Regions from separate parts of the Homo sapiens genome. Here region 1 is linked to region 2. Evidence: fine-mapped expression QTL. A gene starts in region 2. The other region holds a variant in brackets. All regions are shown on one strand. Distances are from middle to middle.

Region 1 (4,379 bases), 27 kb before region 2:
GACGTGTGAAGAAGGGATAACAGGATCCATGATGAAGGGAAAAAGTAGCCAAAAGAAGCAGATCCTGAGGCTGGGCACGGTGGCTCACACCTGTAATCCCAGGCGGGCAGATCACGAGGTTAGGAGATTGTGAACATCCTGGCTAACATGGTGAAACCTCCTCTCTACCAAAAATACAGAAAATTAGCCAGGAGTGGTGGCATGCACCTGTAGTCCCAGCTACTCGGGAGGCTGAGGCAGGAGAATCACTTGAACCCGGGAGGCAGAGGTTGCAGTGAGCTGAGATCGTGCCACTGCACTCCAACCCTGGGCGACAGAGCAAGACTCCGTCTCAAAACAAAACAAAACAACAAAGTATTAGCCAGGTGTGGTGGTGCACACTTGTAGTCCCATCTACTTGGAAGGCTGAGGCAAGAGATCGCTTGAACCTGGGAGGTAGAGCTTGCAGTGAGCTGAGATCGTGTCACTGCACTCTAGCCTGGAGAGCAAGACTCTGTCTCCAAAAAAAAAAAAAAAAAAAAAAAAGAAAAAAAGAAATAGTTATAGCCAGGAGCAGTGGTTCATGCTGGTAATCCCAGTACTTTAGGAGGCCAAGGAAGGTGGGTTGCTTGAGTCCAGGAGTTCAAGACCAGCCTGAGAAACATAGTGAAACCCCATCTATACAAAACAAACAAAAAAATAGCTGGGCATGGTGGTACACATGTGTAGTCCCAGCTACTCAGAAGGCTGAGGTAAGAGGATCGCTTGAGCCAAGGAGTTTGCGGCCAGCCTGGGCATCATGGTGAAACCCCAGCTAAAAATTGGCCGGGAGTAGTGGCCAGTGCCGGTAGTCCTAGCTACTCTGGAGGCTAAGGGAAGATCACCTGAGCCCAGGAACTCAAGGCTGCATTGAGATGTGACCACAACACTGCTTCTTAGCCTCGGTGACAGACAGTGACCCTGTCTCAAAAAAGAAAGAAAAAAGAAGGAAGGAAGGGAGGGATGGAGGGAGGGAGGGAGGAAGGAAGGAAGGAAGGAGAGAGGGAGGGAGGGAGGGAAGGAGGGAAGGAGGAAAAGAGGAAAGGAAGGAAGGAAGGAAGGAAGGCAGGTAGGCAGGCTGGCCAGAAGATGATGGAAAGACATCTTTAAACTGGTGAATGATAAAAAGTGACAACCCAGGTAGGTCATGCCTATAATCCCAGCACTTTGGGAGGCCGAGGCAGGTGAATCACCTGAGGTCGGTCAGGTGTTCAAGACCGGTCTGGCCAACATGGCAAAACCCTGTCTCTAATAAAAAAATACAAAAAATTAGCTGGGCATGGTGGTGTGTGCCTGTAATTCCAGCTACTCAGGAGGCTGAGGCAGGAGAATCGCTTGAACCAGGGAGTCGGAGGTTGCAGCGAACCGAGATGGCATCACTGCACTCCAGCCTGGTGACAGAGTGAGACTTTGTCTCAAAAAATAATAAATAAATAAATAGGCCGGCGTGTTAGCTCATGCCTGTAATCCCAGCACTTTGGGAGGCCCAGGCGGGTGGATCACTTGAGCCCAGGAGTTCAACACCAGCCTGAGCAACATGGCGAAACCCCGTCTCTACCAAAAATACAAAAATTAGCTGGGTGTGGTGGCGCACGCCGATAGTCCCAGCTACTCAGGAGGCTGAGGCAGGAGAATTGCTTAAACCTGGGAAATGGAGGTTGCAGTGAGCGGAGATTGTGCCACTGCACTCCAGCCTGGAAAACAAGAGCGAGACTCTGTCTCAAAAAAATATATATATGTAAGTGACAACCCAGAATTCCATGTCACTCAAAAACGTCCCTCAAAAATAAAGGTGAAAGAGGGACATTACAGACAAAAACAGAGAATTCATGGCCAACAGACCTATATGAAAAGAAAAGCTGAAAGTACATCTTTAGGTTGAAGAAAAACAAGATTTGGACCACACTATGAACCACCTTGACCTAATGACATTACAGAAAACGAAAACCAATGACTGAATAAAACTCTTTTCAAGTGTATATGCAATATTCACCACGAAAAGTATATACATGATCATAAAACACATCTTTTTGTTTTTTTGAGACAGGGTCTCATTCTGTTGCCCAGGCTGGAGCACAGTGGCGTGATCACAGCTCGCTGCAACCTCTACCCCTGGGCTCCAGTGATCCGGCTAATGAAGGAAACATTTTGGCCGGGCACAGTGGTTCATGCCTGTAATCCCAGCACTTTGGGAAGCTGAGGTGGGTGGATGGCTTGAGCTCAGGAGTTTGAGATCAGCCTGGCAACACAGTGAGACCCTCTCTCTATGAAAAATACAAAAATTAGCCAAGCATGGTGGCACATGCCCATAGTCCCAGCTACTTGGGGGGCTGAGGCAAGAGGATTGCTTGAGCCTGGGAACTTGAGGCTGCAGTGAGCCGAGGTCACACCTCTGTACTCCAGCCTGGGTGACAAAGTGAAACCCTTTAAAAAAAAAGTTTTTTGTTTTTTTTTAGACAGAGTCTCGCTCTGTAGCCCAGGCTGGACTGCAGTGGTGCAATCTCGGCTCACTGCAAGCTCTGCCTCCTGGATTCATGCCATTCTCCTGCCTCAGCCTCCTGAGCAGCTGGGACTATAGGTGCCTGCCACCATGCCTGGCTAATGTTTTGTATTTTTAGTAGAGACGGGGTTTTACTGTGTTAGCCAGGATGGTCTCGACCTCCTGACCTTGTGATCTGCCCGCCTCGGCCTCCCAAACTGCTGGGATTACAGGCGTAAGCCACTGCACCCGACC[CT/C]TTTTTTTTTTTTTTTTTTTGTACAGACAGGGTCTCACAATGTCCAGGCTTGTCTCAAACTCCTGGCCTCAAGACCTTGGCCTCCCAAAGTGCTGGGATTACAGGTGTGAGTCACCATGCCTGGCCGAAATAAATCGTAATCAATTTAAAAGAACTGAAATCAGAGTATATTTTCTAAGCATATTGGAGTTGAATTAGAAATCAGTTGTGGTAGGAAATCTAGAAAATCAACTGGGTGCAGTACCTCACACCTGTCATCTCAGCACTTTGGGAGGCCGAGGTGGGCAGATCACCTGAGGTCAGGAGCTCAAGACCAGCCTGACCTAAATGGTGAAACCCTGTCTCTACTGAAAATACAAAATTAGCTGGGCGTGGTGGCGCATGCCTGTAATCTCAGCTACTTGAGAGGCTGAAGCAGGAGACTCTCTTGAACCTGGGAGGTGGAGGTTATGGCGAGCCGAGATTGTGCCATTGGATTCCAGCCTGGGCAACAAGAGCGAAACTTGTCTCAAAAAAAAAAGAGGCCAGGTGCGGTGGCTCATGCCTGTAATCCCAGCACTTTGGGAGGCTGAGGCAGGAGGATCACCTGAGGTCAGGAGTTCAAGACCAGCCTGACAAACATGGTGAAACCTCGTCTCTACTTAAAACACAAAAATTAGCTGGGCATGGTGGCATGTGCCTGTAATCCCAGCTATTCGGGAGGCTGAGGCAGGAGAATCACTTAAACCTGGGAGGCGAAGGCTACAGTGAGCCGAGATTGCATCAGTGTACTCCAGCCTGGGTGACAGTGTGAGACTGTCTCAAAAAAAAAAAAAAAAAAAAAAAAAGAAACCCCATCTTTACAAAAAATACAAAAATTAGCCAGGCATGGTGGCGCAAGGCTGCAGTGAACCAAGATCATGCCACTGCACTCCAGCCTGAGTGACAGAGTGAGATGCTGCCTCAAAAGAGAAAAGAAAAAAAAAAAAATGAGAGCAGTGACTGTCCATGGGGCAGGGGACCGATGGAAGGGGACATGAGTGGTGCTTCTGCAGGGATTGAAATGGTCTCATGACCAGGTTCATGCATTCATCAAAACTCACTACATTTTATGGTGGAGATTGAGGCACTTTGCTGTACATACAGTTTACCTCAATTACCAAAAAAGACCAAAAGGACACACAGTAAGTGTTCACGGTCATTATCTTTGGGTGCAGGGTTATAGATTTTTTTGCCTTTAAACTTTCTTTTCCTCTATAAATTTCAGCATTAAGTAGCTGTTTGTTTGGAAGTATACTTTTTTTTTTTTTTTTTTAAAGTATTTTTTTGGCCAGGTGCGGTGGCTCACACCTGTAATCCCAACACTTTGGGAGGCCAAGGCAAGTAGATCACTTGAGGCCTGGAGTTTAAGACCAGCCTCGCCAACATGGCGAAACCTCTTCTCTCCTAAAATACCAAAAAATAGCTGGGCGTGGTTGCACATACCTGTAATCCCAGCTATCTGGGAAGCTGAGGCACAAGAATCGCTTGAACCTGGGAGATGGAGGCTGCAGTGAGCCGAGATCACACCACTGCACTCTAGCCTGGGTGACACAGCAAGACCATCTCAAAATATATATATATCTTTTTCTTTATTTTTTTCCTTTT
Region 2 (4,379 bases):
ATGCATTCAGAAAAATACGTGCAAAAATGACAAAAACCTGAAATCAACCTCATGGCTCCAAATCCCAACGTCAAACCAGAGTTTAGCGACGGACGCCAACCCCTGAGAGTCACAAAGCCTTCCCTCACTTTTTTTTCTTAACCAACCAAACAAGCAGCAGTGACCCCTTTGCCTTCGAGGGCCACTCAGCTGACCAAGGGCAGCCCAGACGCTGCTGGCCCCCACCCAGCCCCCAGGCCGAACAAGCACCCAGAGCACACGCAATGCCCTGACATACCCAGCACACCAGGACTGGGATCCAGTTCCTCAACCCGCAAAGCTCCGTAGGGGAAAAGTGCCTCACAACGCAACAAGAAGCTCCTCCCAAGGGTCTCAACACTGAGCTGTGAGTCCCTGGGGGACACTCGGGAACTCCAATGGGGAAGAATACAGTGCGTTAGGAAGCCAGTGGGTGGGGAAGTCTATGCCCCACGGACACAAGGGCGGGACACAGGAGGTGGGTGGACGGCACCAGCCCCGTAGGGCATCTGTGAGCTCTGCCACGGGCTCCCAGTGTTTTGGAGCCTGAGAAGGAGACTGACCTGTGTGGCAAGAAACTATAAGCAGCTTATATAAAAATGTGGACTGGAAAGCCACAGCAGCCTCCCCAAAGGAAGCCCGACAGGAAGCGGGGCAGGAGGAGCAGGTCCTTAGGGAAAAAGGCAAGAGGAAGAGGGAGGACTGGGAGGGGAGCCTGCACAGGTGGCTCCGCAGCCCCCCTGGGCCACCACACAGCCACGCTGACCTCTGGCATCATGGCCTCCAGCAGGCTGCCCACCCCTGGCTCCCCAGCGCTCAGGTCATGCCTGAACTGGCCCTCAGGAAGTGGGGGGTTCCTGGTGACCACAGGTGCCCACCCACCCCAGGGCTTCTCCAGGACAGGTGGGGGGAGCCAGGATGGACGAAGGCAGGGCAGGGGCAGAGCTGCACAGGGGGGACCAGTAGGAGGCGGGGCTGCCACAAAGAAAAGGGGGGCAGGGGGCAGGTGTGTGCAGGGCAGGGCCAGGTCAGGTGAGGCTAGGCAGGTCACCAGGGGCAGGTGTGCGGGGCAGGTGTTTGGGGTAGGTGGGGCAGGCTGGTCACCTGGGGCAGGTATGTGGGGCAGGTGTGCGGGGCAGGTAGGGCAGGCCGATCACGTGGGGCAGGTGGGGAAGGCTGGAAACGTCGAGCAGGTGTGCGAGGCAGGTATTTGTGGCAGGTGGGGCAGGCTGGTCACCTGGAGCAGGTACGTGGGGAAAGTGTGAGGGGCGGGTGGGGCAGGTGTGAGAGGCAGATGTGAGGGGTGAGCTAGTCACGTGGGGCAGGTGTGCAGGGCGGGTGGGGCGGGCGGGTCACGTGGAGCAGGTGTGAGGGGCAGGTGTGCAGGGCGGGTGGAGCGGGCTGGTCACGTGGAGCAGGTGTGAGGGACAGGTGTGGCGGGCTGGTCACCTGGGACAGTTGTGCGGGGCAGGCGCGCGGGGTAGGCGCGCGGGAACCGGACGAGGCGAGAGGCCGGCGGGCGCACTTGCCTGCGAAGGCTGCGGCAGCGGCGGCCTCGTCGGGGCCGGGCAGGGCCTCGGCGCCCATGTCCATGTGCCCGGGCTCCGCCGCCATCACCGCCACTGCCGTGACCCGCGGCGTCTCCCGCTCCGCCTCCGAGTCTGCGTCCTCCTCCGAGTCCTCGTCCCTGCTCAGCACCGGCTCCTCCGCCTCGCCTCCTGCCGCGGCCGCGGCCGCCGCCGCCACAGCGGCCGCGGCCGCCACCGCCGCCGCCTCAGCCAGGCCCAGCTGCTTTGCCGCCGAGTCCGAGTCCTCCATCCGGACTCCGCCGAGCCTTCCCGAAGGCGCCGTCCGGGACCGCCCGAAGCGCCGGTCGCGGAGCCCGAAGCGGGGCCCGAAGAGGACGCCCGAGCTGGGCCGAGGCCGCCCGAAGCCGCCGCCCGAATAGGGACCGAAAAGGCAGCCAGCCGCCGAGCAGAGCCGAGCCGAGTCCGCCCGCGGAGCGGAGCCGAGGCGAACAGAGGCTGCCCGAGTAGGAGCCGAACCTGCACGAAGCCGCCGAGCCGAGACCGAGTCCTGAACCGAGGAGGGTCGAAGTTCCCCGAAGTGGGAAGCCGAATCAGTCCGAATAGGTCCGAGTCCTCACGAGGGCTTCCGAGAGACTCGGCCCCTGCTCTCCTCACTGTCCTGACAGGCTGAGGCGGCTGTCGTCCCCGGCCGACAGGGCTGGACGGCTCTAGGCAGATTCTCGCCGGCGGCCGGCGCAATTCTGCCTCTCAGAGAGAGCTTAGTGCCGCGGGTTTCGCCCGTTCCCGCCGCCGGCGGAAGCCGAGTCAGCCCGAGGCCGAGCCGAGACGAGCCGAATGTCCCCGAGGCCGAATGCTCCCGAACGTCGGTTCTCCACCTCTTCCCTTCCGAAAGTGCCCGAGCGGTGCCGGACGGACTAATCGGGCCTCGGCCGTGGCTCGGACGTCCGCTCCCGAAACGCGGCGCGGTCGGGCCCCTTCGTCAGGAGACGCGAAAATGGCCGAAGGAGCGCGAGCGCGCGGGCCGAGAGGCTGCCGGGATCGCGACGGACCGGCGGGCGGGGCGGGTAAGATGGCGGCCCCGCGGCGAGGTGAGCTCGGGCGGGGTGGGGGCTTCCGGGCTTGCAGCGGCGGGCGCGGCGTTTCCCTGTGGTGACAATCCGGTTTCCGCTTTCGGTGCGCTCACGGGGCCGTGCCACCGTCTCTACGTGAGCGAGACAGCTCCGTCACCCCATCGAGAAGCGCGGCCTGGCCTGGCCTGGGTGGCGGGCGTCCTGCACCCCGAAGAGCTCCCCCGCGCGCGGGCGCCTGGCCCCGGGCAGGGTGGGTGCGGAGCGGCTCTGGGGGCCCCAGTCCCCGGCAGCTCTTGTCCCGCGCGTGGTTTTTGTGAAGACACGTGGGCGGGATGGGCGCAGGGTTTCGGTAGCCTTGGAACTCTCGCCAAAGAAAATCGCGGGCGCCGGTGCCTCAGCCGTCCTGCCTGAGAGACTCGCCTCCGAGAGGAGGAAGGGACAGACCAAAGCAGTAAATCGGCCATCCTGCAGAGGAGCCGCCTTCTGCTGTCTGTGGGTACAGCCAGAACTCCCATACGCGGGCGCTGAAGTGCCAAACCTTCGTGCGTGTTCTCTAGTAATTAGGTGCATTGTTTTGAAGGAATAAAGAATGGCTACTCCATAGGCAGGACAGCCTCTAGTAACCAGGTTTGTTTTGTGTATTTTCATTTGGTTAAAAATTAAGTTTAGGTTGGGCGCAGTGGCTCAGGCCTGTAAGCCTGACAGTTTGGGAAGCCGAGGCTGCAGGATCATTTGAGGCCAGCCTGGGCAACATAGCAAGACCCCCTCTATAAAAAAAAAACTGTAAACATCAGCCAGGCGGTGGCGCACCCCTGTGGGCCAAGCTATTCTGGAGGCTGAGGCTGGCGGATCACTTGAGCCCAGGAGGTCGAGGTTGCAGTGAGCCGTGATGGCGCCACTGCACTCCAGCCTGGGCGACAGAGCGAGACCCCCTTCTACAAAAAAAAAATTAAAAATTACCCCGGGGAAGGCCAGGCGCAGTAGCTCACGCCTGTAATCCCAGCACTTTGGGAGGCCAAAGCGGGCGGATCACCTGAGGTCGAGGGTTCAAGACCAGCCTGACCAACATGGAGAAACCCCGTCTCTACTAAAAATACAAAATTAGCCTGGCGTGATGGTGCATGCCTGTAATCCCAGCTACTTGAGAGTCTGAGGCAGGAGAATTGCTCGAACCCGGTGGTGGTGGTGGGGGGGGTGGGGTGCGGAGGTTGCAGTTGGCCAAGATCGCACCATTGCACTGCAGCCTGGGCAACAAGAGCGAAATTCTGTCTCAAAAAAAAAAAAAATTACCTCAGGGAGCCTGTGGTCCCAGCTACGTGGGAGGCTGAGGCTGGCGGATCACTGGAGCCCAGGAGGTTGAGACTGCAGTGAGCTGTGATCAGGCCACTGCACTCCAGCCTGGGCAACAGAGCAAAACCCTGTCTCTAAAAAAACTAAGTGTATACCAAAACAAGATTTCTTAACACATCTTGTCCATTACATCAGGGAAAACACTTGTTCTCTTTCACTTCCATGTTTAACTTCTGCCTGACACAGCTATTCGTAGCCACATTGTGATTATAGTAAGTCACTGACAAAAAATGTTGTCCTGAAAGCCAAGGCTACGTTCGGTCAGAATGAGCTCCTGCAGGTCTGGAATTGTTAGAACAGCGTATCTGGTTATAGCCGCCCTTCATATTAATTATTAAAATGTTACATCACTTAAGGCTTTTATACAGTTTTTCCCCCAAGCCCCATAACTTCAATCTATAACAGTGAGCAA

Alleles and levels. Alleles are on the strand shown, and positions count from the first base shown. SD is a standard deviation of normalised expression in the study named.
For the expression in Th1 cells of the gene that starts at base 2,011 in region 2, allele CT in region 1 goes with a lower level than allele C (large effect, 0.79 SD a copy in Schmiedel 2018).

Evidence for each region. PIP is the estimated chance that this variant, and not a neighbour inherited with it, causes the effect.
Region 1: its variant is the best candidate, but not a certain one, in a credible set for the expression of DEAF1 in Th1 cells (Schmiedel 2018, PIP 0.57).

What each region holds. Positions count from the first base shown.
Region 1 is chr11:666,373-670,751 of GRCh38, forward strand. All of the region lies in intron 10 of DEAF1 (DEAF1 transcription factor), which reads right to left. Among named protein-coding and RNA genes, the nearest start is that of DEAF1, 27 kb to the right of the region's middle. The variant CT/C (reference allele first, on the strand shown) is at 2,753.
Region 2 is chr11:693,212-697,590 of GRCh38, forward strand. DEAF1 (DEAF1 transcription factor) reads right to left here and starts at 2,011. Exons shown (of 12, transcript NM_021008.4): 1 at 1,548-2,011. The coding sequence starts at 1,836. It overlaps TMEM80 (transmembrane protein 80), which reads left to right and starts at 2,605. Exons shown (of 5, transcript NM_001042463.3): 1 at 2,605-2,635. The coding sequence starts at 2,617. RefSeq lists silencers at 1,383-1,632, 1,653-1,772, 1,783-2,082, 2,583-3,002 and enhancers at 1,448-1,987, 1,988-2,529, 2,530-3,069, 3,610-4,149.